3 separate regions of the Homo sapiens genome follow, and regions 1 and 2 are each linked to region 3. The links come from fine-mapping of genetic effects on gene expression. A gene starts in region 3. Each other region holds a variant in brackets. All regions are shown on one strand. Distances are from middle to middle. Region 1 overlaps NOXA1 (NADPH oxidase activator 1). Region 2 overlaps EXD3 (exonuclease 3'-5' domain containing 3). Region 3 holds the start of NSMF (NMDA receptor synaptonuclear signaling and neuronal migration factor).

The links.
Region 1: its variant is fine-mapped to the expression of NSMF in transverse colon (GTEx, PIP 0.99).
Region 2: its variant is fine-mapped to the expression of NSMF in blood mononuclear cells (TOPMed, PIP 0.94).

What each region holds. Positions count from the first base shown.
Region 1 is chr9:137,431,665-137,441,327 of GRCh38, reverse strand. NOXA1 (NADPH oxidase activator 1) reads right to left here. Exons shown (of 14, transcript NM_001256067.2): 9 at 8,254-8,299; 10 at 8,065-8,123; 11 at 7,721-7,875; 12 at 7,464-7,578; 13 at 7,249-7,363; 14 at 6,922-7,104. The coding sequence ends at 6,968. It overlaps ENTPD8 (ectonucleoside triphosphate diphosphohydrolase 8), which reads left to right. Exons shown (of 10, transcript NM_001033113.2): 1 at 1-42; 2 at 3,023-3,168; 3 at 3,244-3,361; 4 at 4,019-4,169; 5 at 4,300-4,459; 6 at 4,577-4,807; 7 at 5,052-5,315; 8 at 5,499-5,609; 9 at 5,990-6,124; 10 at 6,223-6,964. The coding sequence starts at 3,043. The coding sequence ends at 6,414. Among named protein-coding and RNA genes, the nearest start is that of ENTPD8, 4.9 kb to the left of the region's middle. RefSeq lists silencers at 1-111, 5,018-5,067, 5,029-5,283. The variant C/T (reference allele first, on the strand shown) is at 5,783.
Region 2 is chr9:137,326,475-137,337,183 of GRCh38, reverse strand. The region is part of intron 17 of EXD3 (exonuclease 3'-5' domain containing 3); the gene reads left to right. Among named protein-coding and RNA genes, the nearest start is that of NRARP, 30 kb to the right of the region's middle. The variant G/T (reference allele first, on the strand shown) is at 4,962.
Region 3 is chr9:137,454,845-137,465,553 of GRCh38, reverse strand. It overlaps NSMF (NMDA receptor synaptonuclear signaling and neuronal migration factor), which reads left to right and starts at 6,220. Exons shown (of 16, transcript NM_001130969.3): 1 at 6,220-6,522; 2 at 7,005-7,066; 3 at 7,653-8,147; 4 at 9,068-9,143; 5 at 9,920-9,925; 6 at 10,247-10,315. The coding sequence starts at 6,452. It overlaps PNPLA7 (patatin like domain 7, lysophospholipase), which reads left to right. Exons shown (of 35, transcript NM_001098537.3): 27 at 1,098-1,214; 28 at 1,359-1,428; 29 at 2,023-2,139; 30 at 2,721-2,869; 31 at 3,223-3,375; 32 at 3,513-3,623; 33 at 3,934-4,018; 34 at 4,817-4,920; 35 at 5,078-5,602. The coding sequence ends at 5,161. RefSeq lists enhancers at 2,649-3,581, 3,582-4,515, 7,339-8,036, 9,818-10,699 and silencers at 5,990-6,339, 6,430-6,699.

The sequences.
Region 1 (9,663 bases), 24 kb after region 3:
AGCTTCCTCCTTGCCGCTCCGGGAAGTGGGCAGCCAGCCCAGGTGAGGGTCCAAAGGGATGTCCTGGGGGGGCTGTCCTGGTCTGGGGGGCTGTCCTGGTCTGGGGGGCTGTCCTGGTCTGGGGGGCTGTCCTGGTCTGGGGGGGCTGTCCTGGTCTGGGGGGCTGTCCTGGTCTGGGGGGGCTGTCCTGGTCTGGGGGACTGTTCTGTCTGAGGGGGTGTCCTGGTCTGGGGGGGCTGTCCTGGTCTGGGGGGCTGTCCTGGTCTGGGGGGCTGTCCTGGTCTGGGGGGCTGTCCTGGTCTGGGGGGGCTGTCCTGGTCTGGGGGGCTGTCCTGGTCTGGGGGGGCTGTCCTGGTCTGGGGGACTGTTCTGTCTGAGGGGGTGTCCTGGTCTGGGGGGGCTGTCCTGGTCTGGGGGGCTGTCCTGGTCTGGGGGGCTGTCCTGGTCTGGGGGGGGCTGTCCTGGTCTGGGGGGCTGTCCTGGTCTGGGGGGGCTGTCCTGGTCTGGGGGGCTGTCCTGGTCTGGGGGGGCTGTCCTGGTCTGGGGGACTGTTCTGTCTGAGGGGGTGTCCTGGTCTGGGGGGGCTGTCCTGGTCTGGGGGGCTGTCCTGGTCTGGGGGGGCTGTCCTGGTCTGGGGGGGGCTGTCCTGGTCTGGGGGGCTGTCCTGGTCTGGGGGGGCTGTCCTGGTCTGGGGGGCTGTCCTGGTCTGGGGGGGCTGTCCTGGTCTGGGGGACTGTTCTGTCTGAGGGGGTGTCCTGGTCTGGGGGGCTCTCCTGGTCTGGGGGGGGCTGTCCTGGTCTGGGGGGCTGTCCTGGTCTGGGGGACTGTTCTGTCTGAGGGGGTGTCCTGGCCTGGGGGGCTCTCCTGGTCTGGGGGGGGGCTGTCCTGGTCTGGGGGGCTGTCCTGGTCTGGGGGGGGCTGTCCTGGTCTGGGGGCTGTCCTGGTCTGGGAATCTGTTCTGTGTGAGGGGGTGTCCTGGTCTGGGGGGCTCTCCTGGTCTGGGGGGGGCTGTCCTGGTCTGGCGGGGGCTGTCCTGGTCTGGGGGGCTGTCCTGGTCTGGGGGGCTGTCCTGATCTGGGAGTCTGTTCTGTGTGAGGGGGTGTCCTGGTCTGGGGGGGCTGTCCTGGTCTCAGGGACTGTTCTGTGTGAGGGGATGTCCTGGCCTGGGGGACTCTCCTGGTCTGGGGGGGCTGTCCTGGTCTGGGGGGGCTGTCCTGGTCTGGGGGGCTGTCCTGGTCTGGGGGGGCTGTCCTGGTCTGGGGGACTGTTCTGTCTGAGGGGGTGTCCTGGTCTGGGGGGCTCTCCTGGTCTGGGGGGGGCTGTCCTGGTCTGGGGGGCTGTCCTGGTCTGGGGGACTGTTCTGTCTGAGGGGGTGTCCTGGTCTGGGGGGCTCTCCTGGTCTGGGGGCACTGTCCTGGTCTCGGGGGGGCTGTTCTGGTCTGGGGGGCGCTTTCCTGGTCTGAGGAGCTGTTCTGATCTGGGAGGCTGTTCTGGTCTTGGGGGTCTTTTGAGTGTGGGAGAGGTTGCCCCAACCTCTTTGCCTACCTGGAGGCTCAGGCCTGGGGGTCTCAGGTGGCTACATCTTCTGGGTGTGGAGTCCCTGTGTTCCTGGCCCCTGTCACCTGTTTGTCCCTATGAGGTGGCCTATGGCCTGGGTGCTGGTTGGGGACACAGGCTGGGCCCTGTCTGGGCTGGACCGGCCTCCTGTCCTCTCTGAGCCTCTGTCATCTACCCTCCTTAAAATGGGCTTATATCCCCCGGACATACAGAATTGCGTGAGGACCCCACAGCGTGTCCCACTTTCCACGTGCCCAGGAGCCCCAGGTCAGGACCAGGGCAGCACCCGCGCCTGCCACTCAGTGTGGGTGCAACGTTTCCCGGGGGAACACGATAGGACACGGTCACATGGGGTTCAGGTGCCGGGACCTTGGCAGGCAGCCTCTGGCTTTGACCACTCCTTTGGCAGTGGTACCCGTGTGAAGTGGGGCTGTATGGGGCACAGGGTCGGCCTGGGGTAGTTTGAGAGCTGAGACCCTTGCTGGGCGTTTGGGCAGAGGAGGAGGTGGACACCTCGGCCACAGGGCTAGAGAAGCCCAGGCCCCTCAGATGGCATCCCTGGGTCCACCTCCCGACCAGGCGCCATCTGGCACCAGCTAAGAAGGTGCAGAGTCAGATTAGGGAAGCCTTGGGCTGGATTTCCAGAGAAACCGATGTTGTTAAGAAGCCTCACACTCGGCTTCCTAGGATGGCTGGCCTCACCCTGGGTTCACCCACAGCCCCTCGGCAACAGTCCCCTCAGGGCTCCAGAGAGAAACCCCCACCCTAGGAGTGCCTGGGGTGGGGGCCGCAGAGAGGAGGCAGAGCCCTGGGCCCCCAGTGCAGGCTGGAGCTGTGGCTGCTCCTGGGGAGGGTGGCACGGGAGAGGCAGGACCGAGGGGTGGGGACACAGGGTGGCCCCATCACATGGTGGGGGCAGCTCCGCGAGTCCCATCCGAGGGGGTCCGAGGGGGCTACTTGGATCCTGCTGGGGCTGTGTCCCCAGACGAGGCCTCTGCTGCCCCCCGCCCCCCTCCCACAGGGCCCTCTGATGCCCATGGCACCCCTGGCAGGCGTGGCTCCTGGGGAGTGGTCCTTGGCCACGGGAGGCGTCTGAGCCCCGGGGATGCCTCTATGGCCACGGGAGACCGTCTGAGCCCCGGGGATGCCTCTATGGCCACGGGAGGCCGTCTGAGCCCCGGGGATGCCTCTATGGCCACGGGAGGCCGTCTGAGCCCCGGAGATGCCTCTATGGCCACGGGAGGCCGCCTGAGCCCCGGAGATGCCTCTAAGGCCACGGGAGACCGTCTGAGCCCCGGGGATGCCTCTATGGCCACGGGAGGCGTCTGAGCCCCGGAGATGCCTCTAAGGCAAGTGGCTGTCCAGGGGTGCGTCTCCAGGGAGACGGGGAGCGAAGCCTCTGCCTCTGGAGGGCGGGATGGGGACACCAAGTGCAGCCTGGGTGCCCACGGCCGTCCCCCCACAGGAACCAGTACCACCTGCACCATGGGGCTGTCCCGGAAGGAGCAGGTCTTCTTGGCCCTGCTGGGGGCCTCGGGGGTCTCAGGCCTCACGGCACTCATTCTCCTCCTGGTGGAGGCCACCAGCGTGCTCCTGCCCACAGACATCAAGGTGCGTCCCCGCCGGCAGGGGAGGCCGGGCCGGGTCCACAGGTGTTGCCTCCCACTCATCCCACTGTCTCCCCAGTTTGGGATCGTGTTTGATGCGGGCTCCTCCCACACGTCCCTCTTCCTGTATCAGTGGCTGGCGAACAAGGAGAATGGCACGGGTGTGGTCAGCCAGGCCCTGGCCTGCCAGGTGGAAGGTTAGTGGGCTGTTCTGCAGCCCGGTGCTGGGACCTGCCTGTTGCTGCCTGGCTGGGATTCCCAGCTGCACGGAAAGGGTTTGGAGAGGTTCAGTGACTTGGCTGAGCTCACACGCCGGGCATGGGTGCTGGGCCGGAGCCTGCGTTCACGCGGTGGCACTCTGGGGACCTCCCTGCCTGATCCTGGTGAGCAGTCAGATTCTCATGGCCTGGCCTGGGTCTGCCCAGCATCTGCTGCCTCCAGCCCTGACCCTCTCTGGCCCCTGGTGCTCCCCACCCTGGCACCACGTGGTGCTGGCAGCCGAGGCTGGTAGTTACAGGGGTGCCTGCACTCCAGGATCCTGAGAGGGGAAAACAGGAGGCCCCGAATTTGTTTCCTGGGGGCTCTGGTAACAAATTACCACAAATTGGGGGCTTAAAACAGTAGCAGCTTATTTCTCAGCATTCTAGAAGTCTGAAAACAAGGTGTGGACAGGGCCGCACCCCCTCCAGAGGCTCTGGGTTAGGGTCCTTCCTGCTTCCTTCAGCCTGAGCACTCCACGCAGCCCTTGGCTGGTGGCTGCACCAGGGGGCATGAGGTGGTCATGTCTTTGGGGGCTACCTTTCAGCCCAGCCAGCCTGCGGGGTCTGGAGCTCTGTCCCCGGCTGCTGTTCCAGGGCCTGGAATCTCCTCCTACACTTCTAATGCTGCACAGGCTGGTGAGAGCCTGCAGGGCTGCTTGGAGGAGGCGCTGGTGCTGATCCCAGAGGCCCAGCATCGGAAAACACCCACGTTCCTGGGGGCCACGGCTGGCATGAGGTTGCTCAGGTGAGGCAGGCATGGCCTTGGCACCCACGGGGAGTGGCTGCAGAAGCCATGGTCTCAGCCAGCGTGGCAGGCAGGGTGGGGCCGGGCCCAGGCTTCCAGCCAGCTCCAGCCCCTGGTCCTCTGTGCCCAGCCGGAAGAACAGCTCTCAGGCCAGGGACATCTTTGCAGCAGTCACCCAGGTCCTGGGCCGGTCTCCCGTGGACTTTTGGGGTGCCGAGCTCCTGGCCGGGCAGGCCGAAGGTGCCTTTGGTTGGATCACTGTCAACTACGGCTTGGGGACGCTGGTCAAGGTGCCACAGGCTGCCTGAGGGCGGGGGCTGGTCTGCGAGGGGCTGGTGTCTGGGGCTGGCTGACCGGGACGGGGTCCGGGTGGCTGCTCCCAGCTGAGTGGCCCCTTCTGTGCCCAGTACTCCTTCACTGGAGAATGGATCCAGCCTCCGGAGGAGATGCTGGTGGGTGCCCTGGACATGGGAGGGGCCTCCACCCAGATCACGTTCGTGCCTGGGGGCCCCATCTTGGACAAGAGCACCCAGGCCGATTTTCGCCTCTACGGCTCCGACTACAGCGTCTACACTCACAGCTACCTGTGCTTTGGACGGGACCAGATGCTGAGCAGGCTCCTCGTGGGGCTGGTACAGGTCAGCTGGCCCTGGGGAGGGTGCATGGGGCTGTGGGAACAGGGCTATGGGCACAGGGCTGGCGTGGGTCATCCGGCCCCGGGGAGGGGGCACAGGGTATGGGCGCGGGGCTGGCGTGGGTCATCCGGCACCGGGGAGGGCGCACAGGGTATGGGCGCGGGGCTGGCGTGGGTCATCCGGCCCCGGGGAGGGGCACAGGGCCGCAGGTGTGCGGCTGGTGCTCAGGCCTCCCTGCCCTCTGCAGAGCCGCCCGGCTGCCCTGCTCCGTCACCCGTGCTACCTCAGCGGCTACCAGACCACACTGGCCCTGGGCCCGCTGTATGAGTCACCCTGTGTCCACGCCACGCCCCCGCTGAGCCTCCCCCAGAACCTCACAGTTGAAGGGACAGGCAACCCTGGAGCCTGCGTCTCAGCCATCCGGGAACTTTTCAACTTCTCCAGCTGCCAGGGCCAGGAGGACTGCGCCTTTGACGGGGTCTACCAGCCCCCGCTGCGGGGCCAGTTCTATGTGAGCACCTACACTGCCCCCACCAGGGGTCCGGGCTTCCTTGTGAGGCCTCAGGTGCCTGTCTGACTCCAGCAGGCCCAGGAGGGGCCCAGGCTGGCTCTTAGGGGCTCTGGGAGCCCGGGTGGGGTGGATCTGGCCCAGCGTGGCCACAGCGAAGGCACAGCCACCTCCCCTCTCACTCAGGCCTTCTCCAACTTCTACTACACCTTCCACTTCCTGAACCTCACCTCCAGGCAGCCCCTGAGCACGGTCAACGCCACCATCTGGGAGTTTTGCCAGAGGCCCTGGAAACTGGTGGGTGGGCCCTGGGCTCCCTGGCTGCAGCGAGGGTCCCTGAGGGTACAGGGCTGCCTCGGGCAGGATGCTGGAGCCTCATTCTGGGCAGCACGGCCAGCAGGGCCGGGGGAGGCAAGGGCAGAGGACAGCTCCAGGCCGTGCCACTCCAGGTAGGAGGCTGTGGCCACGGC[C/T]GCAGCTGGGCCCAGCCTCTGGCCCGCCAAGAAGGGGCCGCAACCCGCACCACGTAACTGGTCGGTGGGGCCAGGGAGGGGCTCTCTACCACTGCCCGGCACCCTCTTGTTGTCTGCGTGCTCAGGTTGGCCAGGACAGATGGGGCGGTCCCCGCATGACTGGGGATCAGGGGCCCTCACCTCGCCTCTTGGTCTCCTGGGCCCCAGGTGGAGGCCAGCTACCCTGGGCAGGACCGCTGGCTGCGGGACTACTGTGCCTCAGGCCTGTACATCCTCACCCTCCTGCACGAGGGCTACGGGTTCAGCGAGGAGACCTGGCCCAGCCTCGAGTTCCGAAAGCAGGTGACTGCCTCCCCTGGGCGTGGGCGGGGCGTGGGCGTGGGCAGGTCGTGGTCCTGGGGTAGCTGCCCCGCAGCCCTGAGCAGCCGTGTGTCCCGCAGGCGGGCGGTGTGGACATTGGCTGGACACTGGGCTACATGCTGAACCTGACCGGGATGATCCCGGCCGATGCGCCGGCTCAGTGGCGGGCAGAGAGCTACGGCGTCTGGGTGGCCAAAGTGGTGTTCATGGTGCTGGCCCTGGTGGCGGTGGTGGGGGCTGCCTTGGTCCAGCTCTTCTGGTTGCAGGACTAGTGGGAAGGCGGAGGTGGGCCCCCACAGAGCCCACAGGCAGCTGCGTCCCGGATGCTGGAGGCTTCCTGAGCCCTGAGCGCCGTGGGGCCTTGCTCTGTGGCTCTGCCCACGGTCAGGTGACAGCCACCTCCAGGGCACCGTCAGGGTGGTGCTGGCCACAGAGGCTGCATGACCTCCCCTCCCGGCGTCCCTCCCCCAACCTCCTTCCGCAACTGGGCTTCCAGGGCCGTAGGTGCCTTTCTGCACACAGGCCGCCAGGACTCGTGGTGTCTCCAGGCTGTGTGACTGCAGGGCCACATGCTGCCTGCAAACAGGGCAAGACCACGGAGGCACAGGGGTCCTGCTCCTGATGGGGCCTCAGGAGGGGCGGAGAGGGGTGGAAGGGAGGGAGCTGCCCCACCTGGACCCCCGCTCTCCCTGCTGTTGTCTGAGCAGATGGATGGAGTCCAGGCCTGGGGGCTTCTGCTGGGCCAGCCCGGCCTCCCACACCCACTTGGAGGGTGAGACTGCAGTGGGGGTTGTTTTTATTAAAAGCATCATGGACACAGCATCATTAGGGCTGATCTCCCTGCTGGGATCGGGGCAGGCGGCCGGGGGCTCCTGACATCCGAGGGCCGGCGGGGACCACGAAGCACTTGGGGAAGATGCCGATGCGGCCGTCACAGTGGCCCTCCAGCCATGCCTGGTCCACTGCAAGGGGGACATCGGGCTCTGCAGGGCGTTACCCAGGCGTGGCCTCTGGGTGCCACGTCTGCTCACAGCACAGGCCGAGCTCTAAGCCCCCCACACCCCGGGCACCACGGTGCTGCCTGGGAAGGGCCATGCCCACCCTACCTTCACACAGGACGTCCACCGTGTCCCCCTGTCGGAAGCCCAGGTCCTCTGGCCCCTGGGCGGAGTAGCTGTGCTGGGCCACCACCTGGTAGAGGACCGGCCGACCCCCGGCTCCCTGAGGCAGGAGAGTGGGCTGCAGGTCGGGCCGGGCACTGGGAGGAGGGGCCTCCACCGCCCCTCAGGGTGCCCCTGCCCCTGCCTCGCCCTTGGCTCACCCTGCACTGCAGCTGCAGCCCCCTGGGGCAGGCAGCTGCGTCCTGCCAGGCCCTCTGCAGCGACTCCTCCTCGGGGATGGGGACCCAGTGCCCGTCCTCACCTGGGGCTAGGTAACTGCAAAGAGATTCCTCAGAGGGGGCCTCCTGGGTGGGGCCTGCAGGGAGGGCAGTGACCTCTGCCACCCCCTCTTCCAGCAGCTGCCTCAGTCGGGGCGGTGCCCAGCTCCACCGCAGCCACCGGGGGCTTTCTGGCCCACCTGAGTTGCCCAAGCTGGGCCTGGTGAGGGAGGGCTTGGCCCAGCAGTGCCCGCAGGCTGGACAGGTCGGCTCCTCTTCGTGCCCTCAGGGCCACTGTGAAGGCGCACTGCACGGTGACAGTCACCAGGGGCTCGGAGCCCCCTGCACCTGCTCCCTGGGTCCAGGCAGGAGGGGGAGGGGTGGTCGCTGAGGCCCAGGGCCTGGTCAGGGCCGTCTTCAGCCCGAGGGGTGTGGACAGAGACTGGGCAGGTGAGGGGGGCTTGCAAGCCTTGATTCTGAGGGATGGGGCTTGGCCTCAGCCTCCCTCAGGTGACTGACAGGTGAAGGGTCTAGAGCCTCTTACCCCAGCACCCGCGGGGTCCTCACAGGGGCCGGGGCCAGGCCCCCCCATTGCCGGCAGCCCTGTAGGACAGAGCAAGACTGACACAGCCACTACCACCAAAGTGGGCCCTGTGGGTGGAGGGCAGCCGGCACCCATGCACCAGCAGCTTCCTCCTTCACCCGGGGACCCCGCCGCTGAGGACGCCCATACCTGGGGAGAGAGGAGCCTGTTTGCCAACTTGCTCCACCTGGGGCCTCTGCAAGAGAAGCACAGGCTGGGTGGGCTGGGGCGGTCAGGTGCTGGAGGCCGGTACTGTCCTCGCAGAGCCCACACCAAGGGTGTGGCCTGTGTGCCCGGCCAGCACCCAGCAGGTGGTCTGTGGGTGTTGAATTCAGGGCACTGGCCACAAGTCGGCTGCCTTAGGATGGGGCTGGGTCCCTGCAGACCTAGAGGCTGCCTGTCACCAGGAGGGAGCGCCCCGTCCCCCAAGGCCCACCGAGGTGGCAGCTCCAGGTGGGTGGGCTCCCCAGTGACCCCAGGAAGCTGAGGACCCAGTCCCTGGGCCCCGGCCTCTGTGTGGGCTCGACATTAACCGTGTGCCCTGAGTTGGGCACTGAGCAGGAGACCAGTTCACCAGCTGCAAGTCACAAAGTCACAGCCCAGCGCTGGCTAGACCCTGAGGGTCAGGCATTGCTGTTGTTTTTTGAGAGGGAGTCTCGCTCTGTCGCCCAGGCTGGAGTGCAGTGGCGCCATCTTGGCTCACTATAAGCTCCGCCTCCTGGGTTCACGCCATTCTCCTGGCTCTGCCTCCTGAGTAGCTGGGACTACAGGTGCCCGCCGCCATGCCCAGCTAATTTTTTGTATTTTTTAGTAGAGACAGGGTTTCACCATGTTAGCCGGGATGGTCTCGATCTCCTGATCTTGTGATCCGCCTGCCTAGGCCTCCCAAAGTGCTGGGATTACAGGCGTGAGCCACTTCGCCTGGCTTTTTTTTTTTTTTTTTTTGAGACAGGGTCTTGCTGTCTTGCCCAGGCCGGAGTGGAGTGGCACTGTCATGGCTCACTGCAGCCTCCACCTCCCAGGCTCAAGCAATCCTTCCACCTCAGCCTCCCACGGTGCTGGGATTACAGACCACTGTGCCCGGCCTCGATTGTAACTTATTATTAGATTTATCAGATGGTTGAAGTTGCCTTAGGTTAGGAAGGACGAGAGCTTAAAGGCCCATCGTGGGAACTGGGCAAATAGTTCCAAACCCTGAGGGAATTAGTGAAGCACAGCTTGGAGGGCGCCCTTGCCCCCGGGATGCCACGGTTAAACTGGAAGTGGGCATCCATAAAGAGAGAGTGCCGGGGCTGCTTCCTGATCGCATCCTCAGATGCGCTCAGCGTGAAATGCAGGTGCCTTCTCTGGGCCTCCCGGATCCTGCAGCAGAGCCTCCGCCCACGGCTGCCACCCTGGGAGCAGCTGGGGTTCCTGCCTTCCTCCGCCTCTCCCCAGGTGCCGGGGTGTCCGGGAGGACTCGGGGGATGGAGTCGCTGCTGGGCCCCCATGGGGGGCGGGAGCCTTGGGGCCCCTCCAGAGCTGTCCTGCCTCCCGCCTGTCCCCAGCTGGGTCACTCCT
Region 2 (10,709 bases), 130 kb after region 3:
GTGAAATCTTTTATAATTATGTGGTGAACCTCTTTGACTCCAGTAATGCTCTTTGCTATAAAATATATTTTAACTAACATTAATACCATTTCTCCATTATTCTTTGGTTATTACTCGTAAAGCACTTTTTCATCCTTTTACTTTCAACCTTCTTTTATATAGTAGGTGTGTTTCTTGTAAACTGTTTCTAGTTGGGTTTTTTAAAAAAATCTAGTCTGACAGTCTTTGCCTTTTAACTTATTAGTTTAGTCCTTTTATGTTTATTGTTAAGTATTGATAGAATTTGGGTTTAGTCGTACTATCTTAATTTGTGCTTTCTATTTGTACAACTTTTTCTATTCTTTTTCCTCTTTTTTTTCATGCTTTTAGCTTTTTTACCTTCATTCTATTTTTCCTTCAGTCAATTTGAAAGCTATAAATTCTATTGCTATTGCTTTCCTTGTTTTCTTAAAATATGCATATTTTGCCATGGATTTATTTCTTTTCTTTGTAGGGATTGCCCTAGAATTTTTTTTTTTTTTTTTTTTAGACGGAGTCTCACTTTGTCACCCAGGCTGGAGTGCAGTGGCACAATCTCGGCTCACTGCAAGCTCCGCCTCCCAGGTTCAAGCAGCTCTGCCTCAGCCTTCTGAGGAGCTGAGACTACAGGCACCCAGCACCACACCCAGCTAATGTTTGTATTTTTAGTAGATATGAGGTTTCGCCATGTTGGCCAGGCTGGTGTCGATCTCCTGACCTCAAGTAATCCACCTGCTTCAGCCTGCCGAAGTGCTGGGATTACAGGCGTGAGCCACCACACATGGCCGAGAAATGTTAACACGTATATTTGAGTTAACGATATCTAAAGTTACAGTTAAGTCAGGGATCTTACATCGATTTATGTTTCATATATTTCAATAGCTTTTGGGGTACAAGTGGCATTTGGTTACATGGATGAATTGTGTAATGATGAAGTCTGATACGTTACTGCACTGTCACCCAAATGGTATATATTGTACCCAATATGTCGTCTTTTTATCCCTTACTCCTCCTCCTGCCCTCCCCACCTCTGAGCCTCCAGTGTCCATTATATCACTCTGCATGCCTTTGTGTACCCATAGGTTAGTTCCCACTTATAAGTGAGAACATGCAGTATTTGGTTTTCCATTCCTGAGTTACTTTATTTAGAATAATGGCCTCCAGATCCATTCAAGTTGCTGCAGAGACATTATTTTGTTCTTTTTTACGGCTGAGTAGTATTCCATGGTATATATATACCACATTTTTTTAATCCACTCATTGCTTGATGGATACTTAGGTTAGTTCCATGTCTTTGCAGTTGTGAATTGTGCTGTGATAAACATGTGCGCAGGTGTCTTTCTGATATAATGACTTCTTTTCCTTTGGGTAGATACTCAGTAGTGGGACTGCTGGAGCACACGGTAGATCTGCTTTTAGTTCTTTGAGAAATCTCCATGCTGTTTTCACAGATGTTGTACTAATTTATTTATTTATTTATTTATTTTGAGATGAAGTCTAGCTCTGTTGCCAGGCTGGAGTGCAATGGCGCGATCTTGGCTCACTGCAACCTCCGCCTCCCGGGTTCAAGTGATTCTTCTGCCTCAGCCTCCTGAGTAGCTAGGACTACAGGCACCTGCCACCACACCTGGCTAATTTTTTGTATTTTTAGCAGAGACCGGGTTTCACCTTGTTGGGCAGGCTGGTCTCGAACTCCTGACCTCGTGATCCGCCCGCCTTGGCCTCCCAAAGTGCTGGGATTATAGGTATGAGCCACCACGCCTGGTCTTTTTTACATTTTAATAATGTCTATTCTGGCTAGGGCAAGGTGGTATCTCATTGTGGTTTTAATTTGCATTTCCCTGATGATTCGTGAGGTTGAGCGATTTTTCACGTTTGCTGCGTATCTGTATATCTTCTTTTGAGAAATGTCTATGCATGTGTCATTTGCCCATTTTTTGATGGGATTCTTTGTTTTTTTCTTGCGGATTTGTTTGAGTTCCTTGTAGATTCTTGATATTACCTCTTCGTTAGATGCATAGTTTGCAAATATTTTCTTCCATTCTGTGGGCTATTTGTTTTTATTTTGTTTGTTTTTTTTTTTCCTTTTGAGACAGAGTCTCGCTCTGTCACCCAGGCTGGAGTGCAGTGGTGCAATCTCTGCTCACTGCAACCTCTACCTCCCAGATTCAAGTGATTCTCCTGCCTCAGCCTCCCGAGTAGCTGGGACTACAGGCGCCTGCCACCATGCCCGGCTCATTTTTTGTATTTTTAGTAGAGATGGGGTTTCACTGTGTTAGCCAGGATGGTCTCGATCTCCTGACCTCGTGATCCGCCCGCCTCGGCCTCCCAAAGTGCTGGCATTACAGGCGTGAGCCACCGGCCTTGTGGGCTGGTGTTTTCTCTGATGATTATTTCTTTTGCTGTGCAGAAGCTTTTTAGTTGAATTAGGTCACATTTATTTATTTTTGTTTTTGTTGCATTTGCTTTTGTGGTTCTAGTCAAAACTGTTTGCTTAAGCCAATGTGCAGAAGAGCTTTCCTAGATTTCCTTCTAGAATGTTTATGGTTCGAGTCTTACATCTAAGTCTTTCATCCATCTTGAGCTGGGTTTTGTATATGGTGAGAGGTATGGATCCAGTTTCATTCTCCTACATGTGGCTAGCCAGTTTTCCCAGCACCACTTACTAGATAGGGTGTCTTTTTCTCCAACGGATGTTTATTTATACTTTGTCAAAGATCCGTTGATTGTAAGTATTTGGCTTTATTTCTGGATTCTCTATTCCATCCCATTGGTCTATGTATCTACTTTTATACCAGTACTATGCTGTTTTGGTAACTATACTGTATTAGTCCCTTCTCACATTGCTATAAAGGAATACCTGAGGCCAGGTGCAGTGGCTCACGCCTGTAATCCCAGGACTTTGAGAGGCAGAGGTGGGCGGATTACCTGAGGTCGGGCGTTCGAGACCAGCCCGGCCAACATGGTGAAACCCCGTCTCCACTAAAATACAAAAAATTAGCCGGGTGTGGTGGCGGGTGCCTGTAGTCCCAGCTACTCGGGAGGCTGAGGCAGGGGAATCGTTTGAACCCAGGAGGTAGAGATTGCAGTGAGCCGAGATCACGCCACTGCACTCCAGCCTGGTGACAGAGCGAGACTCCATCTCAAAAAAAAAAATTTGCTGGGCTTGGTGGTGGGCGCCTGTAGTCTCAGCTACTCGGGAGGCTGAGGCAGGAGAATCACTTGAACCTGGGAGGCGGAGGTTGCAGTGAGCGGAGATGACGTCACTGCACTGTACTCCAGCCTGGGTGACAGAGTGAGACTCTGTCTCAAAAAAAAAGAAAAGAAAAGAAAAAAAGAAATACCTGGGACTGGGTAACTTATAAGAAAAGAGGTTCAACTGGCTTATGGTTCTGGAGGCTGTACAGGAACCGTATCACTGGCATCTGCTTCTGGGAGCCTCTGGAAATGTCTAGTCCTGGCAGAAGGCAAAGCAAGAGTTTGCATGTCACATGGTGAAGGCAGGAGCGAGAGAGCAAGAGGGGACGCGCTACGCACTTTTAAACGACCAGGCAAGGACAGGACCAAGGGGGACAGTGCTAAGCCACTCCTGAGAAATCCTCCCCCATGATCGAGTGGCCTCCCTCCAGGCCAGGCCCCACCTCCAACACCGTGGCTTGCATTTCAGGATGAGATTTGGGCGGGGACACATTCAAATTATACCACAGAGCCTTGTAGTATAGTGTCAGCCAGGGTTCTCTAGAGGGACAGAACTGATAGGATAGATGTGCATACGAAAGGAAGTTTATTAAGGAGAGTTGACTCACAGGATCACAAGGTGAAGTCTCACCCAGGCCGTCTGCAAGTTAAGGAGCCAGGAAGCCAGTGGTGGATCCGTCTGAGTCCCAAAACCTCAAAAGCAGGGAAGCTGGCAGTGCAGCCTTCAGTCTGCCGCCAAAGGCCCGAGAGCCCCTGGCAAACCGCTGGTGTACGTGTAAGAGTCCAAAAGCTGAGGAACTTGGAGTCTGATGTTCGAGGACAGGAAGCATCCAGCACGGGAGAAAGATGGGGCCGGAAGCCTCAGCAAGTCTGCTCTTCCATCTTCTCCTGCGTGCTTTATTCTAGCCGTACTGGCAGCTGATTAGACGGTGCCCACTGAGGGTGGGTCTGCCTCTCCCCGTCCATGGACTCAAATGTGAATCCCCTTTGGCAACACCCCCACAGACACATCCAGGATCAATACTTTGCATCCTTCAATCCAGTTGACACTCAATATAAACCCTCACAAGTATAATTTGAAGTTGGGTAATGTGATGCCTCCAGATTTGTTTTTTGTTTTTTGACAGACAGAGTCTCAGTCTGTCGCCAGGCTGGAGTGCAGTGGCGCAACCTTGGCTCACTGGAATCTCCGCCTCCTGGGTTCAAGGGATTCCCCTGCCTCAGCCTCCCAAGTAGCTGGGACTACAGGCGCCCGCCACCATGCATGGCTAGTTTTTTTGTGCTTTTTAGTAGAGACGGGGTTTCACTGTTTTAGCCAGGATGGTCTCGATCTCCTGACCTTGTGATCTGCCCGCCTTGGCCTCCCAAAGTGCTGGGATTACAGGCGTGAGCCACTGCGCCTGGCCAATACCATGTACCCTTTAACAATCTCGGCTCACTGGAACCTCCGCCTCCCAGGTTGAAGGGATTCCCCTGCCTCAGCCTCCCAAGTAGCTGGGACTACAGGTGCCCACTACCATGCCCGGTAATTTTTTGTATTTTAGTAGAGATGGGGTTTCACCATGTCGGCCAGGCTGGTCTCGATCTCCTGACCTTGTGATCCACCTGCCTCGGCCTCCCAAAGTCCTGGGATTACAGGCGTGAGCCACTGCGCCCGGCCTAGATTCGTTCTTTTTCCTTAGGACTGCTTTGGCTATTCAGGCTCTTTTTTGGTTCATACAGATTTTAGGATTGTTTTTTCTAAT[G/T]CTGTGAAAAACGATGTTGGTACTTTGATAGGAATTGCACTGAATCTATAGATTGCTTTGGGCAGTTTGGTTATTTCACAATATCGATTCCTCCAATTCATGACCATGGGATGTATTTCCATTTGTTTGCGTCATTCATGATTTCTTTCAGCAGTATTTTGTAGTTCTCCTTGTAGAGTCTTTCACCTCCTTGGTTAAGTACATTCCTAGGTTTGTTCTGTGTGTGTGTGTGTGTTGTCGTTGCGCAGATATTGTAAAAAGGATTGAGTTCTTTTTTCACTTTTTTATTTATTTATTTTTATTTTTTGAGACGGAGTCTCACCCTGTTGCCCAGGCGGGAGTGCAGTGGCGCCCTCTCGGCTCACTGCAACATCCACCTCCCGGGTTCAAGCAATTCTCCTGCCTCAGCCTCCTGAGTAGCTGGGACTACAGGCGTGCACCACCACACCTCGCTAATTTTTGTATTTTTAGTAGAGACGGGGTTTCACCATGTTATCCAGGCTGGTCTCAAACTCCTGATCTCAAGTGAGCCACCCACCTGGGCCTCCCAAAGTGCTGGGATTACAGGCGTGAGCCACCGCGCCTGGCCTGAGTTCTTGGTTTCCTTCTCAGCTTGGTCGTTGTGCTACTGATTTGTGCACATTTATTTTGTAACCTGAGACTTCACCGAATCCATTTGTCAAATCGAGGAGTCTTTTGGAGGAGCCTTTAGGGTTTTCGAGGTATACAGTCATAACATTGGCAGAGATAGTTTGACCTCCTGTTTTCCCATTTGGATGCCCTCTCTTTCTTGTCTTTCCTGATAGTTCTGGTCAGGACTTTGAATACTATGTTGGGTGGGAGGGTGAGTGTGGGAGGGTGAGAGGGCATCCTTGTCTTGTTGCAGTTCTCAGGGGGACTGTTTCCACTTTTCCCCATTTAGTATGATGTTGGCTGCGGGTTTGTCATATATGGCTATTATCATTTTGAGGTATGTTCCTTCCAAGCCTAGTTGGTTGAGGATTTTTATCGTAAAACAATGCTAGATTTTGTCAAGTGCTTTGTATGCATCTACTGAGATGATCGTGTAGTTTTTGTTTTTAATTCTGTTTAGGTGATGAATCAAACTTACTGACTGGCACATGTTGAACCCCCCTGAATCCCTGGGATGAAACTCACTCGGTCATGGTGAATTATTGCTTTAATGTGCTGTTGGATTCCGTTTGCAGGGTCAACTTGTCTTTCATACCTTCCCTGCTGTCATCTTCCAGAATGTTAACACGATGCTGTCTTCCTTAATTCTGCAAATTAGACATTATCATGTTTGTTTTATGGTCTTGACGTCTTTTAGTGTTGATGATGTGTGGACCACTTGTTGCATGGCAGACCTTCCTCTGGGAAATGACAAACTCCTTCGTGTTAATGAATTTTCCTTGTTCTTTAATTGGGGCCATTTTTCCTTTCTAATAAGCTCTGTTTCCTCTTTCTTGAAAGAGAGTGTTGCCGGGTTTATTCTTGTAGCTCTACAGAACTTTGAAAACCCTCCACTACCTTTTGGCTCCATTGTTGCCCTCGAGAAGTCCATCAGTCCTGTGTAGCTCCTGTGTAGTCCTGTGTAGTTCCTGTGTAGTCCTGTGTAGTCCTGTGTAGTCCTGTGTAGTCCTGTGTAGCTCCTGTGGAGCCCTGTGTAGCTCCTGTGTAGCTCCTGTATAGCTCCTGTGTGGTCCTGCGTAGTCCTGTGTAGCTCCTGTGTAGCTCCTGTGTAGCTCCTTTGTAGTCCTGTGTAGCTCCTGTGTAGTCCTGTGTAGTCCTGTGTAGCTCCTGTGTAGTCCTGTGGAGCCCTGTGTAGCTCCTGTGTAGTCCTGTGTAGCTCCTGTGTAGCTCCTGTGTAGTCCTGTGTAGTCCTGTGTAGTCCCGTGTAGCTCCGGTGTAGTTCCTGTGTAGCTCCTGTGTAGTTCCTGTGTAGTTCCTGTGTAGCTCCTGTGGAGCCCTGTGTAGCTCCTGTGTAGTCCTGTGTAGTTCCTGTGTAGCTCCTGTGTAGTCCTGTGTAGTCCTGTGTAGTCCCGTGTAGCTCCGGTGTAGTCCTGTGTAGCTCCGGTGTAGTTCCTGTGTAGCTCCTGTGTAGCTCCTGTGTAGCTCCTGTGGAGCCCTGTGTAGCTCCTGTGTAGTTCCTGTGTAGCTCCTGTGTAGTCCCGTGTAGCTCCGGTGTAGTCCTGTGTAGTCCTGTGTAGTCCTGTGTAGCTCCTGTGTAGTCCTGTGTAGTCCCGTGTAGCTCCTGTATAGCTCCTGTGTGGTCCTGCATAGTCCTGTGTAGTCCTGTGTAGTCCTGTGTAGTCCCGTGTAGCTCCTGTATAGCTCCTGTGTGGTCCTGCATAGTCCTGTGTAGTCCTGTGTAGTCCTGTGTAGCTCCTGTGTAGTCCCGTGTAGTCCCGTGTGACCCCGTGTAGTCCCGTGTAGTCCCGTGTAGTCCCGTGTGACCCCGTGTAGTCCCGTGTAGTCCCGTGTGACCCCGTGTAGTCCCGTGTAGTCCCGTGTAGTCCCGTGTAGTCCCGTGTGACCCCGTGTAGTCCCGTGTAGTCCCGTGTAGCCCCGTGTAGTCCCGTGTAGTCCCGTGTAGTCCCGTGTAGTCCCGTGTGACCCCGTGTAGTCCCGTGTAGTCCCGTGTAGCCCCGTGTAGTCCCGTGTAGTCCCGTGTAGTCCCGTGTGACCCCGTGTAGTCCCGTGTAGTCCCGTGTAGTCCCGTGTGACCCCGTGTAGTCCCGTGTAGCTCCCGTGTAGCTCCCGTGTAGCCCCGTGTAGCTCCCGTGTAGCTCCCGTGTAGCCCCGTGTAGCCCCGTGTAGCCCCGTGTAGTCCCGTGTAGCTCCCGTGTAGCTCCCGTGTAGTCCCGTGTAGCCCCGTGTAGCCCCGTGTAGCTCCCGTGTAGTCCCGTGTAGCCCCGTGTAGCCCCCTGTAGCCCCGTGTAGCTCCCGTGTAGCCCCGTGTAGCCCCGTGTAGCTCCCGTGTAGCCCCGTGTAGCCCCGTGTCGTCCCGTGTAGCCCCGTGTAGCCCCGTGTAGTCCCGTGTAGCTCCCGTGTAGCCCCGTGTAGCCCCGTGTAGCTCCCGTGTAGCTCCCGTGTAGCCCCGTGTAGCCCCGTGTAGCCCCGTGTAGTCCCGTGTAGCCCCGTGTAGTCCCGTGTAGCTCCCGTGTAGCCCCGTGTAGCCCCGTGTAGCCCCGTGTAGCTCCCGTGTAGCCCCGTGTAGCCCCGTGTAGCCCCGTGTAGTCCCGTGTAGCTCCCGTGTAGCCCCGTGTAGCCCCGTGTAGCCCCGTGTAGTCCCGTGTAGTCCCGTGTGACCCTGTGTAGTCCCGTGTAGCCCCGTGTAGTCCCGTGTAGTCCCGTGTAGCCCCGTGTAGCCCCGTGTAGTCCCGTGTAGTCCCGTGTGACCCTGTGTAGTCCCGTGTAGCCCCGTGTAGTCCCGTGTAGTCCCGTGTAGCCCCGTGTAGTCCCGTGTAGTCCCGTGTAGCCCCGTGTAGTCCCGTGTAGTCCCGTGTAGTCCCGTGTGACCCTGTGTAGTCCCGTGTAGCCCCGTGTAGTCCCGTGTAGTCCCGTGTAGTCCCGTGTAGCCCCGTGTAGTCCCGTGTAGTCCCGTGTAGCCCCGTGTAGTCCCGTGTAGTCCCGTGTAGCTCCTGTGTAACTAGTCTGTTTCTTCCCTTTGACCCGTTTCCTTTGGTTTTTTCCCGTATATTTACTTTATTTACCAGTTGTGTTTGTTTTTACTTTTGTTTTTACTCATCATATAGGTGTATATTAGTTGTTTTTACTCATCATATGAGTGTATATTAGTTGTTTTTACTCATCATATGAGTGTATATTAGTTGTTTTTACTCATCATATGGGTGTTTATTCGTTGTTTTTACTCATCATATGAGTGTATATTAGTTGTTTTTACTCATCATATGGGTGTTTATTCGTTGTTTTTACTCATCATGTGGGTGTTTATTTGTTGTTTTTACTCATCATGTGGGTGTATATTTGTTGTTTTTACTCATCATATGGGAGTATATTAATTGTTTTACTCATCATATTGGTGTATATTAGTTGTTTTTACTCATCATGTCGGTGTTTATTCGTTGTTTTTACTCATCATATGGGTGTATATTAGTTGTTTTTACTCATCATATGGGAGTATGTTAGTTGTTTTTACTCATCATGTGGGTGTTTATTCGTTGTTTTTACTCATCATATGGGAGTATATTAGTTGTTTTACTCATCATATGGGTGTATATTAGTTGTTTTTACTCATCATATAGGAGTATATTAGTTGTTTTACTCAGCATATGGGAGTATATTAGTTGTTTTTACTCATCATGTGGGTGTTTATTCATTGTTTTTATTCATCATGTGGGAGTATATTCGTTGTTTTTACTCATCATATGGGTGTATATTAGTTGTTTTTACTCATCATGTGGGTGTATATTTGTTGTTTTTACTCATCCTATGGGAGTATATTAGTTGTTTTTACTCATCATGTGGGTGTATATTTGTTGTTTTTACTCATCATATGAGTGTATATCAGTTTTTTACTCATCATATAGGTATATATTGGTTGTTTTTACTCATCATATGGGTGTATATTTGTTATTACCACGAAGTAACTACTTTCTGTTTCCCTTTTTTTCTTTCTTTTTGTGGTAAAACATACATAACACGAAATTGACCATTTTAACCATTTTTAAGTGTACAATTCAGTGGCATTAGCACATTCACTGTATCACATATCCATCACCACCACCCCTTTCCAGAACTGGGTATCATCCCAAAGACTCCATACTGGCCGGGCGCGGTGGCTCACACCTGTAATCCCAGCACTTTGGGAGGCCGACGCGGGCGGATCACAAGGTCAGGAGGTCGAGACCATCCTGGCTAACATAGTGAAACCCTGTCTCTATTAGAAATACAAAATATCAGCGGGCCGTGGTGGAGGGCGCCTATAGTCCCAGCTACTCAGGAGGCTGAGGCAGGAGAATGGCGTGAACCCGGGAGGCAGAACTTGCAGTGAGCCAAGATCGTGCCACTGCACTCCAGCCTGGGCGACAGAGCAAGACTCTGTCTCAAAAAAAAAAAAAAAAGACTCCGTACCAATAGTTATCTCCCCTCCCCTCCTTCTAGCCCTGGTGGCCACTGTTCCACTTTCTGCCTCTATGAATTGACCTGTCCTAGGTACCTCGTAGACGTGGAATCATATAGTATCTGCCCATTTGTATCTGGCATCTTTCACTCGGCGTGTCGTAAGGGTTTATTCACGACGTAGCCTGTGTCGGAACGTCCTTCCTTTTTTTTTTTGAATGTGGCTGCTACGAACACTGATGTATGAGGATGTGCTTGAGTTCCTGCTTTCAGTTCTTTTGCATATACAGCTAAAGGTGAAACTGCTGAATCCTCTACTGACTCTGTGTTTAACTTCTTGAGGAACCTTCACACTGTTTTCCACGGCGGCCACACCATTTACCTTCCCGCCAGTGACGCATGAGAGTTCAGTTTATCCACATCCCACCAACATTTATTTCCCTTTTTTTTTATAAAGGCCACCCTAATGGATGTGATGTCTCACTGTGGTTTTTATTTGCATGTCGCTCATGACGAATAATGTAGAGCATCTTTTCATGTGCTTATTGGCCACGCGTATATCTTTGAAGAAGTGTCTATTTAAGTCCTTTGCCAACTGTTTTTTTTCTTTTTGAGATAAGGTCTCACTTTGTTACCCAGGCTGGAGTGCAGTGACACGATCAC
Region 3 (10,709 bases):
CATGCAGCAGGACGGCCCCAGGGACAGCGTCCTCGGGACAGAACCCGCCATGGGCAGAGGTGGCTCCGAGCCGGTCCTGTCCCAGAGTCACCTGGTGGCCCTCTCCCTGTCCCTCCGTCTGTGGGTCTGGGGCTGGGGGGCCAGGTGTGGGAATGGCCAGAGCTCTCTGGGCTGGTCCTCTTTCCGTGCTGGGATCACTGGGCCCTGGGAACTGGCCGGGGCAAGGTGAGGCCGGGGCTGTGTGCCTGCCCCTCATGCTGAGGAGAGGGGACAGTGGGCGTGTGGTCTGGCTTATCTCTGTGAGCCCCTCTGGTACTGGGCAGGGGCTTCCTCAGGGAAGGACCGGGGTCTCCTCTGCCTGTGGCCGAGGCGTTCTCACTGCCTGCATCACACGGTGTAAGCACGTCCAGCCCACACTCCAAGCGCTTCCCTCCCAGCCTCCGTCCCCTGAGCCCTGGCTCACTATGGCAGGGAAGACCCTTCCTCTCCATCCACACTGGGCATTGAGGCTAGTTTGAGGTCAGTCTCGAGTCCTGCCTGCCTCACTGAGGAAGGATGGGCCCCAGGCCCACCCAGAAGGAACCCAAGAGAGCCCGGCTTCCCCGGGACCCCTGATGGAGTACCGCAGTGGCATGTGAGCCAGGGCTGGGTGGCTCTGACCTTCCCGAAAGCAATCCACTGTGTCCCCCTGGCCCAGGAACCTCATGTGCCCAGCAGCCCGCCCCGAGCTCTCCTCCTCGCTGACCCTCCAGCCACGGGCATGGGCAGGCCTTGCCCCAGAGCTGAGCAGGCAAAGCCGAGGAGGCCCCAGGCATGGGGGCGCTGCAGAGCCTGCGAGGGTAGGGCCAGCGAGGGCTTAGGGATCAGGAAGGGACCGAGGGTGGGCTGTGTCCTGGCTTTCAGGCCCTGGGGCGACCACCAGCCTCTGCTCACTCTGAGGCTCCAGCCAGGGCGCCAAGCCTCAGGACCGTGGGTGGGGCCCAAGGACACTCTGGACCCCCGTTCCATTCATGAGAGGCCCTCAGCACGCCACGTGTCTGCTGTGGCAGCCCGCAGGGAGGGTGGAAGCCTTCTGTAAATTCCACATGTGGCCCCAGGGCATGACGTCCTTGATGAAGGCCGCGCTGGACCTCACCTACCCCATCACGTCCATGTTCTCCGGAGCCGGCTTCAACAGCAGCATCTTCAGCGTCTTCAAGGACCAGCAGATCGAGGTGCACCCCCACCCTCAGGAGCCCATGCAGCCCCCAGTGCCTGTCCCCTCCTGGCCCCCCACCTCTTGGCCCTGGGTCAGCCTCCCCAGACACAGGACAGGAGCGTGATGGGAGAGGGCCCATCTGAGCCCCGTCCGCCCGCAGGACCTGTGGATTCCTTATTTCGCCATCACCACCGACATCACAGCCTCGGCCATGCGGGTCCACACCGACGGTGAGCACTCCTGCTGCGCAGGGCGGCCGCTTGGGTGCGAGGTGTGGGCAGGGGGAGAGCTCAGCAGCCCCAGGGGTTGGGAAGGCCGCGGGGTCTCCTGAAGGATGCAGACGTATGGGCAGCTTTGTCCATGGAGGACACAGGATGCCCCTACTAGGGGCACAGACAGGAGGGGGCGTGGCCTGGGCCAGAGACCTCAGAAGGCTGGAGGAGACCCTCACAGAATCAGCAATGTTGGGCTAGACTGATGGATACCATGTGAGAGGACAAAGTGAGGGGCTCCCTGAGTCCTGGGGTGAGGGGCTCACCTGGTTCAGGGGGATGAGGGGTTCACTCGGTCATGGGGTGAGGGGCTCCCTCAGTCCTGGGGTGAGGGGGTCACAGCAGTTCGAAGTCCTGGGCACATGTAATGCAGTGCGACCCCAGAGAAAGAACTCAATTTTGTTCAGCCCTTGGGCCATGAGCTTCCCTCTGTGGAGGCGGCCTCAGAGAGTTGGGACCTACCAGCTCCAGGACTGCAGTGGCAAGGCCCTGAACCCTGGACCCAGGAGGAGCCTCCTCCGGGTAACCAGCAGCTCCGGGCCCCCTCCCCAGGCTCCCTGTGGTGGTACGTGCGTGCCAGCATGTCCCTGTCCGGTTACATGCCCCCTCTCTGTGACCCGAAGGACGGACACCTGCTGATGGACGGGGGCTACATCAACAACCTCCCAGGTACTGCGGTGGGGGGACCACGCCCGGCAGGAGCACAGGCTCCTGGGTCACGCCGCCCCACGGCCCCTGCCACAGCTGCCTCCGCTCCAAGAAGCCTGGGCTGGAACACGTTTTCCTTAGAGTATGCCAAGGGAAAATGTCAGGCTGGCATCAGAGCTCCGAGAACATGCACACGCGTGTACATGCACACGCAGGCACCGGCAGCATGTGCTCCAGCATATGGCCCTGTTTGTCAGCTCAGCAGCATGCAGAACAAAGGCCAAGTCGAGGAACTGGGAGCAATTAAGCCCCATCTGTGCCCACAGTCAGAAACTAACAGCCTGCAGGTGTCGAGCTTGCTGGGGGCCAGGCCAGGCCACTCCTGTCACCTGTGGGATATACGGTCAGAAAGGCCCAGGACACAGCCGTGTGCCCACAGCTGCCCATCGAGCTGGGCATGTGGGTCTTCTGCCTCTAGAAGGTGTAATGGCGGAGAGGAGACCCCACAACCCCCACGTCAGGGCTCGGAGAGGCAGGCTCTGCCCCCGTCCCCTGGCTCTGCATGCCTGTCCAGGGGGTAACCAGGGCTGGCTTCTCCCTAGCGGATGTGGCCCGGTCCATGGGGGCAAAAGTGGTGATCGCCATTGACGTGGGCAGCCGAGATGAGACGGACCTCACCAACTATGGGGATGCGCTGTCTGGGTGGTGGCTGCTGTGGAAACGCTGGAACCCCTTGGCCACGAAAGTCAAGGTGGGGTGCTACCGGGCAGGCTGGGCTGTCCCTGCTGCTCCTCCCTGCAGCTCCACACCTGTCCTGCGGCAGGGGAGTGGGGGTCGCTCCTGGGCTCTGAGGCCAGCAGGTCTGGGGCCACCCCTCACCACCCCTGCCTGAGCCCAACTCGGGCGAAGGAAGGCACGAGGCCGGACGGGCCTGAAGGCTGTGGCAGCCCGCAGGGAGGACCCCCGGCCGGGTGCTGCTACCCTCTCCCCCCAGAACCTACCTACCCCAGAGGATGGGTCCCCAGAACCTGTCCTGCGCCACGGGCCAGGCTGGGACGGGGTAGGGGCCGGGGCAGGAGACTCAGGCGGCTGTGACGGCAGCAGGTGTTGAACATGGCAGAGATTCAGACGCGCCTGGCCTACGTGTGTTGCGTGCGGCAGCTGGAGGTGGTGAAGAGCAGTGACTACTGCGAGTACCTGCGCCCCCCCATCGACAGCTACAGCACCCTGGACTTCGGCAAGTTCAACGAGATCTGCGTGAGTGCCGGCCACCCGCGGCGGCGGAGGCGGGCGGAGGCACTCTGGTGGCTGCCCCTCCTCGCTTCCCCCTTTTGAGAACACAGGAAGTGGGGGGCTCCCCACACCTCCTGACGGGGCCCTGGGGGTGTGCACAGGAAGTGGGCTACCAGCACGGGCGCACGGTGTTTGACATCTGGGGCCGCAGCGGCGTGCTGGAGAAGATGCTCCGCGACCAGCAGGGGCCGAGCAAGAAGCCCGCGAGTGCGGTGAGTACGGGCGTCCGGACCACGCCCAGCTCCCCGGACCGCGCCCAGTTCTTCGGGCCACGCCCACGCCCAGTTCATCAGGCCACGCCCAGCTCCTCAGGCCACAGGCCCTGCCCCCCTGGCCAAAGACTCCAGGGCCAGGACAAGGATTGCTCAGGACTGCGCATCTCCCCGGTCCCTGCCCTTACTTGGGGGGCAGGCGGAGGCTGCAGAGAGGGCGCAGGGTGGGTGGGGCCTCCCCACAGGAAGCAGGCTGGGGACTGGCAGGCGGGTGTCCACAGGCAACGTGCTGTCCTCACCCCACCCCTAGGTCCTCACCTGTCCCAACGCCTCCTTCACGGACCTTGCCGAAATTGTGTCTCGCATTGAGCCCGCCAAGCCCGCCATGGTGGATGGTGAGTGGAGGCGCAAGACGAAGCCGTGGAGACGTGCGTGACCTCCTGATGCTGTGTTGGGCTTGAACCCCCCCACCCCAGAGGCCCACGGCCTCCCCTCCCGCCCACGTCCACGCCCAGGCTCCAGCAGCTGGGGTGCTTGGTGGCACTCCTCCGTCCCGGGCACCACGTGTTCCCACAGCAGTGGGACTGTGACCACCCCGGGTCACCCAGCCCCTGCCCTTCATTCACCTCAACTCCCAGCCACACCTCAGGCCTGAAGTAGAACCACGTTTTGCCTCCCACCCCACCCAGTGGGAAATGGGAATGAAGGCTGCTTGTTGGAGGGGCCGCAGGACAAGAAGGGCGGGTCCACTACCCTCCATGCTCCATCCAGGGCCCTGCGCTTGGGCCTTCAGCCAGTGGCCTCCTCACAGCAGAACTGGACATTCTCCTGGGAGACGTCTTCATGGCTGCCGCAGGCCGAGAGGGCCCTGGGCAAGGCAGCCCCTATCCACAGTTGCCAGGTCTGGGGTGCTGGAGCCCTCAGGGTGCTTGGCTGACAAGGGGAGGAGTGTCTGCCCGCTCCTTGTCCTTGTGGAAGACCCACGAAGTGATGTGCTGGGGCAAAGCTGGAGCCAGACAGAACCAGGGGTGGTGTGCAGGGCTGCCCTGGGACCAGGTGGCTGCGTGTAGGGCCCCGGGCCACCTTGGAGGCGGGGGTGGGCATCTGTGGCCGGTTCTGCCTCTGAGTGTGGCTATGCTGGGTACGGTCCCTTCCTTGGGAGGGGACTGACGCAGCCCTACCCTCGGTGCCAGACGAATCTGACTACCAGACGGAGTACGAGGAGGAGCTGCTGGACGTCCCCAGGGATGCATACGCAGACTTCCAGAGCACCTCAGCCCAGCAGGGCTCAGACTTGGTGAGGAGCTGGGCATGGTCCCACCTGGTGCCCACAGCTGAGCCTTGGTGCCTGGCCCTGTGCCGGCCACTCCCTCCCTGTGGTCCCACCGGGTTACCAGCGCTGCAGAGCCCCTGCCCTGCCTGGTCCTCACCTGGAACATGCGGTCTGCTTGCAGGAGGACGAGTCCTCACTGCGGCATCGACACCCCAGTCTGGCTTTCCCAAAACTGTCTGAGGGCTCCTCTGACCAGGACGGGTAGAGGCCTCTGCTAAAGAGCCCGGATGCAGCGTCTTCCGTGGGACTGTCCCCAAGGCTGAGGCTCCTGCCAAGTCCTAGGGGCCTCTGTACCTGCCCTGCTGGAAGCCCTGACTTCCCCGGGGCCCCAGGCTGTGTTAGGGTTCTCTGGGCCTCTTCTTTGTACCAGCAGCCCTGCATACAGGGCCCTGTGAGCCCCCCTGCAGTCCTGTGAGGCCCCTGAAGCTCTGTGAGGCCCCTGAAGCTCTGTGAACCCCCTGCAGCCCTGTGAGGCCCCCCGAAGCCCTGTGAGGCCCCCCGAAGCCCTGTGAACCACCTGCTGCCCTGTGAGGCCCCCAAAGCCCTGTGAACTGCCTGCTGTCCTGTGAACTGCCTGCTGCCCTGTGAGGTGTGGGAGCCCTGATGCTGCCGTGTGATGTTTCAATAAAGGTGGATCTCACTGTTGGACGTGTCTCCCGGGCCGAGGTCCCTGTGGCAAAGAAACACTACTGGTTCTCCCTGATGCGGGTGGTCCCTGAGGCTGGGCAGTCCCCAGTCCTCCTCAAAGGACCCCACTGCTGGGGCCTGAGAGCCCTAGGGCGGCAAATGCAGGCCAGGCAGGTAGGGCGTCCAGAGTCTGCATAGAGCTGTGGCCCCCCAGGACCAGGACGGGCCCCTCTGTCTCTCTCTGGCCTCGTGCAAACTGGGTGCCCCCTAAACTGGCTTCCCCTTCGGTTTCCAGTTCCCAAACTGCACAGGGAGCCCTTTTGTGTAAGGGGAGGGAGAACCGGCCTCCCTGTGATCCTGCAGGTCTGAGCAGCAGATCGTGAGGGCCGAGGGCCCAGGACTTTGCGACCAGGGGGCCGCTGGCCTCAGTTTCCCCGCTCTGGAGGCCTGGACGAGAGGGCGCGGAGCCAGGCCGCCCGGCCCCGCCCCCAACTCAACCCGGGCCCGGACGTCACGGTGGGCGGGGCCACATGTCCTCTCCGAGCTCTCCGGGGCCCTGACGTCACGGTAGGTGGGGCCGACCGCCCCTCTGGGCCCGCCCGGGCCCTGACGTCACGATGGGCGGGGCCGGCCCTCGGTTCGGGCAGCGCTCTCCCGGGAGCGGCGGCACGCGCGGAGCGCCGGGTGCGGCCATGCGGGGACCGGGCCCGACCCCGAGCCCGACCCCGAGCCCAAGCCCGAGCCGGAGCCCGAGCGAGACCCCGAGCCCGAGCCCGAGCGCGACCCCCGGTGCGGCGCGGCTACCCCGGCGGAGGCGGCGGGCGCGGGGCGCGCTCTGAGGCCCGGGGGATGCGCCGCCGCCTCGACCATGGGCGCCGCCGCCTCCAGGAGGAGGGCGCTGAGGAGCGAGGCCATGTCCTCGGTGGCGGCCAAAGTGCGGTGAGTGCGGCGGGGCCGCCTTCCCGCACCCCGCCCTGGACCTCCGACCCCGCCCGAGTCCGCCCCTGCCCCGCGGTGCTCCCCGGGCTCCCGGGCCCCGGCCTCTGCCACTGAGGCGCCCTCCCCGCGCCCCGCGCCTCCCTCTTCCTGGTCCCCTGCCCTGCTCTTCCCTCCCCTCCCCTCGCGAGCGCGTGGTGGGCGAGCGCACCCCCCAGGTCGGGAGTGGCCTCGGTTCCCCCGGGGAACAGCAGCCGACCGGCCTCGCGACCCCTCTCCACGGTCCGACGGGCAGGGGCCGGGCCTGCAGGCCTGGCCAGGGCGCACCAGGACCAAGGGTGTGTGGGCTCCCGGAGGGGGACGACCCCGACCCTCCTTCCAGACGCCGAGGGCCTGGCTGGGGACCGGACCCCCGGCTCTTGCGCGGCCCGGTGTTTGGGAGGGTCGTGCCGTGGCCTCTGACCGTGCCCTCTGTCCACCCTCAGAGCAGCCCGAGCGTTTGGAGAGTACCTGTCCCAGAGTCACCCTGAGAACCGCAACGGCGCAGGTAGGGGCACGCGAGGCCGTGCCAGGGCCGCCCAGACCCCCCAGCCCAAGGGATGCTGATCCCTGCCTCCGGGGGTGGAGCGTGAGGGGCATTGGTTGCGCGTGGGCCCGGCGCCCTGCCGGCCTGGCTTCCTTACATCCCCTGCCCTCCCTGCCCGAGCCCCAGGAGCAGTTCCCAGCCGCTCGTCACCATGGCACCCACCCCGCCTGGGCCGTTGGCATGGCAACAGGCCTCCTGGCTCCCCCAGGGCTGGCACCACTGCCTCTGGGGGCCAGCTGGTGGGGGGAGGGGGAAGTTGGCACCAGGCAAACGGTGCGATCGCAGGCTGGGGGATGGCCTGCGTGTTCCTACCCGGCAGGACCGCACACAGGTAGCACAGCGTCACCCAGCCCCCACGCACATGCTAGAGCTTCAGGCCCAGATAGGAGTGAGGGGCTCAGAAACACGCCAGTGACTAGGGTTTGGGCAGCCCTAGTCCCCCACAGAGGCCAGGTGCCCACTGGGTGTTCTCTGCCTTCGGCCTGCTATGAAACCGGCAGCGGGGGGCCCACACGCGGCAGGCAGGCTCACTCAGTGTCTCTCCTAGATCACCTGCTGGCTGATGCCTACTCTGGCCACGACGGGTCCCCCGAGATGCAGCCGGCCCCCCAGAACAAGCGCCGCCTGTCCCTCGTCTCCAACGGCTGCTACGAGGGCAGCCTCTCAGAGGAGCCCAGCATTAGGAAGCCCGCAGGCGAGGGCCCTCAGCCTCGAGTGTACACCATCTCTGGGGAGCCTGCCCTGCTGCCCAGCCCTGAGGCGGAGGCCATTGAGCTGGCGGTGGTGAAGGGGCGGCGGCAGCGGCACCCTCACCATCACAGCCAGCCCCTGCGCGCCAGCCCTGGTGGCAGCCGGGAGGACGTCAGCAGGCCCTGCCAGAGCTGGGCGGGCAGCCGCCAGGGCTCCAAGGAGTGCCCCGGATGTGCCCAGCTGGCTCCTGGCCCCACCCCTCGGGCCTTTGGGCTGGACCAGCCACCTCTGCCTGAGACCTCCGGTCGCCGCAAGAAGCTGGAGAGGATGTACAGCGTTGACCGTGTGTCTGGTGAGGGGTTTGTGTCAGGGCATAGACAGGTTTGGGGGTGCATGCCGCTGCCAGGGTCTGACAGCAGCAGCCACTGTGAGGCTTGGAACAGAGAACAGGTGCTCAGGTCACAGCATGCCAGCGGACTCAAGATTAAAACCGGCAGGCTTCTGCTGCGGCCTCCACACCCTATGAGCTGTGAGCTCCCTCAGCTCCTCAGCAAAATCTGCCAGGCCTCACAGTCCGCTTTCGCCCTGCTAGCACCAGGTCAATCAAGGAGTGCTTCCTGGAGGAGGGGGCCTGGGAGGATCTTAAGGGATATGTAGGGAGGAAGCACCGCTTAATCAGGAGACTGGGCTGCCCTCCGAGAGTCCTGGGGAGCTGTTGGGGCCCAGCCAGGCAGTGGGCATCTTTCCCCAGGGTTGTTGAGTTGTGTGGTAGCTTGTCCACCAGGCAGAAAGTCACTCCACTGTCCCCACACTTGGGCATCAGGGAAAGGCTGTGGGGGCCCTCGGAAGGGGACAGCCCTCAGCAAGGTGGTCTCTAGCCTCGGTGAGGGCCTCCAGCTAGAGCATGGGGGCTGCAGAGAAGGCCTCAGAGCCTCTTCTGCCCAAGGGAAACAGACGCATTGTTTTCCTGGGCCTCCTGGAGACAGACTGTGCTTTCAAAGGAATGTTTCTCAAACTTTGGGTGGCCAAAGGGAAAGTTAAGCCAAAAAAATCAAAGCGTCAAGTTACCAAGAGCGTGGTCTTGGTGAGTGAGCAGCAGACATTCGAGCACTGCCCTCTGTGCCCGTGTGGGGATGCCACCCTCCCCCCACCCGCCCTGGCTGCCAGCTTCTGCTGACCCCTGGACCCAGAAGCATCTGCTTCCCAACAGGGAGGGAGAGGCTTCAGGAACCCCTACTTCACCCAGCCACCGCTCCTTTTTGTCTCTCTTAGACGACATCCCTATTCGTACCTGGTTCCCCAAGGAAAATCTTTTCAGCTTCCAGACAGCAACCACAACTATGCAAGCGTGAGTCTTGTGCCCACGACTTGGGGTCAGGGTTGGGTGGTCTCTTTCTGCTGCTCAGGAAACAGCACTTTTTCCCAGTCTCTGGGCCTACCAGGGGGGCTGCTTCTGAACAGACCCACGTGCCTATGCTGTGCCAGGCCTGCCAGGGAGGCCAGGGCTGACTGCTCTTCCCCTCCCATGGCTGGTGCCCAGCCCCCCCCCCCACACACACACAGTCAGGGGACCTGGCCCAGGGCTGCAGCTGATGAGCTCTCAGTGGGGTGTGGGGTGTGGCAGGTTCTCCTGCTCCTATCCACTCTCCTCAGCCTGTGTCTGCCCTCCCTCAAACCCCAAATAGAAGCCTACTTCTGTTTCATACGTGCCATAGGTCATCACAGTTTCAGGGTCCCCGCAGGGACCTGCTCCTCTCTGTCTTGACATACATTTGGCTTTTCTGTTCTGGGATTCCTTCCAGGGAAGTTCCCTTTGCTGCATTGGTCCCCACACCAAAGAAGTGTCCTGCCCGGGGGAGTCCACCCCACACCCAGCCTCAGGCTGCCTGGTCTCAGCAACCAGTCCTTGTGGCATGGGCTGCAGTGACATCAGCTTCCGTTGCCCATTCAGGGCTGGCCAGCAGTGTAGCCAGCATCCTGCTGGTGGCTGGGTTACCTGTGAGGGACCTATTGGGTCAGTGACAAGAAGGGAACTGTAGGGACCGGGTGGGGGCTGAGGGGAGGCCCGGGGTTGAGCTCACTGTGTCTTCTCTCTCACGCCATCCCTTCTGGCCCTGGCTTCAGCATCTCGTAAGTACCTGTATGACTTGGTGCCTAAGGGCACAGCTGTTGTCCCTGGGGAGACCCTCCCACCCCAAATAGGTTTGGGCAGGCCAGGGACCTGGGTCTTGAGGGAGTGCCGCTCTCTGCGGGCCTGGCTCCCAGCGGGCACCGAGGTCGCAGCAGGGCCTGCTGGGAGCTGGGCCTCGACAGGTGAGGCAGGCTGGGACTCCTCTGCCGGGCCCCGTGCCCCAGACGCCCTGCTGGGCCCTCTGCTCGCACCACTGTCCCGACGTCTGTGTCCCTCCTGCCTCCGGCCAAGGGCAGTGCTGACTCGCGGTGGTTTCCCAGGGTGTTCAGGGGCTACGCGGAGAGGAAGCGCCGGAAACGGGAGAATGATTCCGCGTCTGTAATCCAGAGGTAGGGCCTGCCAGCCACTCGCCACCAGGGTCCATCTCTGGTCTGTGCTGGCCTGGCCTGGGCCCCCTCGGCCCTGGCAGACCTGATGGGGGAAGGGTGGTGGCGACCACTGGCCTGGCCCTGCTCTGGGGACGTGGCAGGCAGGAGAGGCCATGTGGCCCGGGCTGCAGGAAAGCATCTCACCCTCAGTCCTGCACTCCGAGGGCACGTGTCTCTGTCTGGGCTGGGGCCAGCAGCAAGGCCCCCCTCCCCCACTCCAATCACACAGATGTGTCTGGGAAGCTTTTTTGCCCGTTTTGGATGTTGGGCCTTGGCAGGGTCCAAAGTTTGGTGGAGGAGAGGACCTGCCCCTGAGGTGGCTCAAGGACACAGAGCAGGAGAGGGGGCTCCTGCA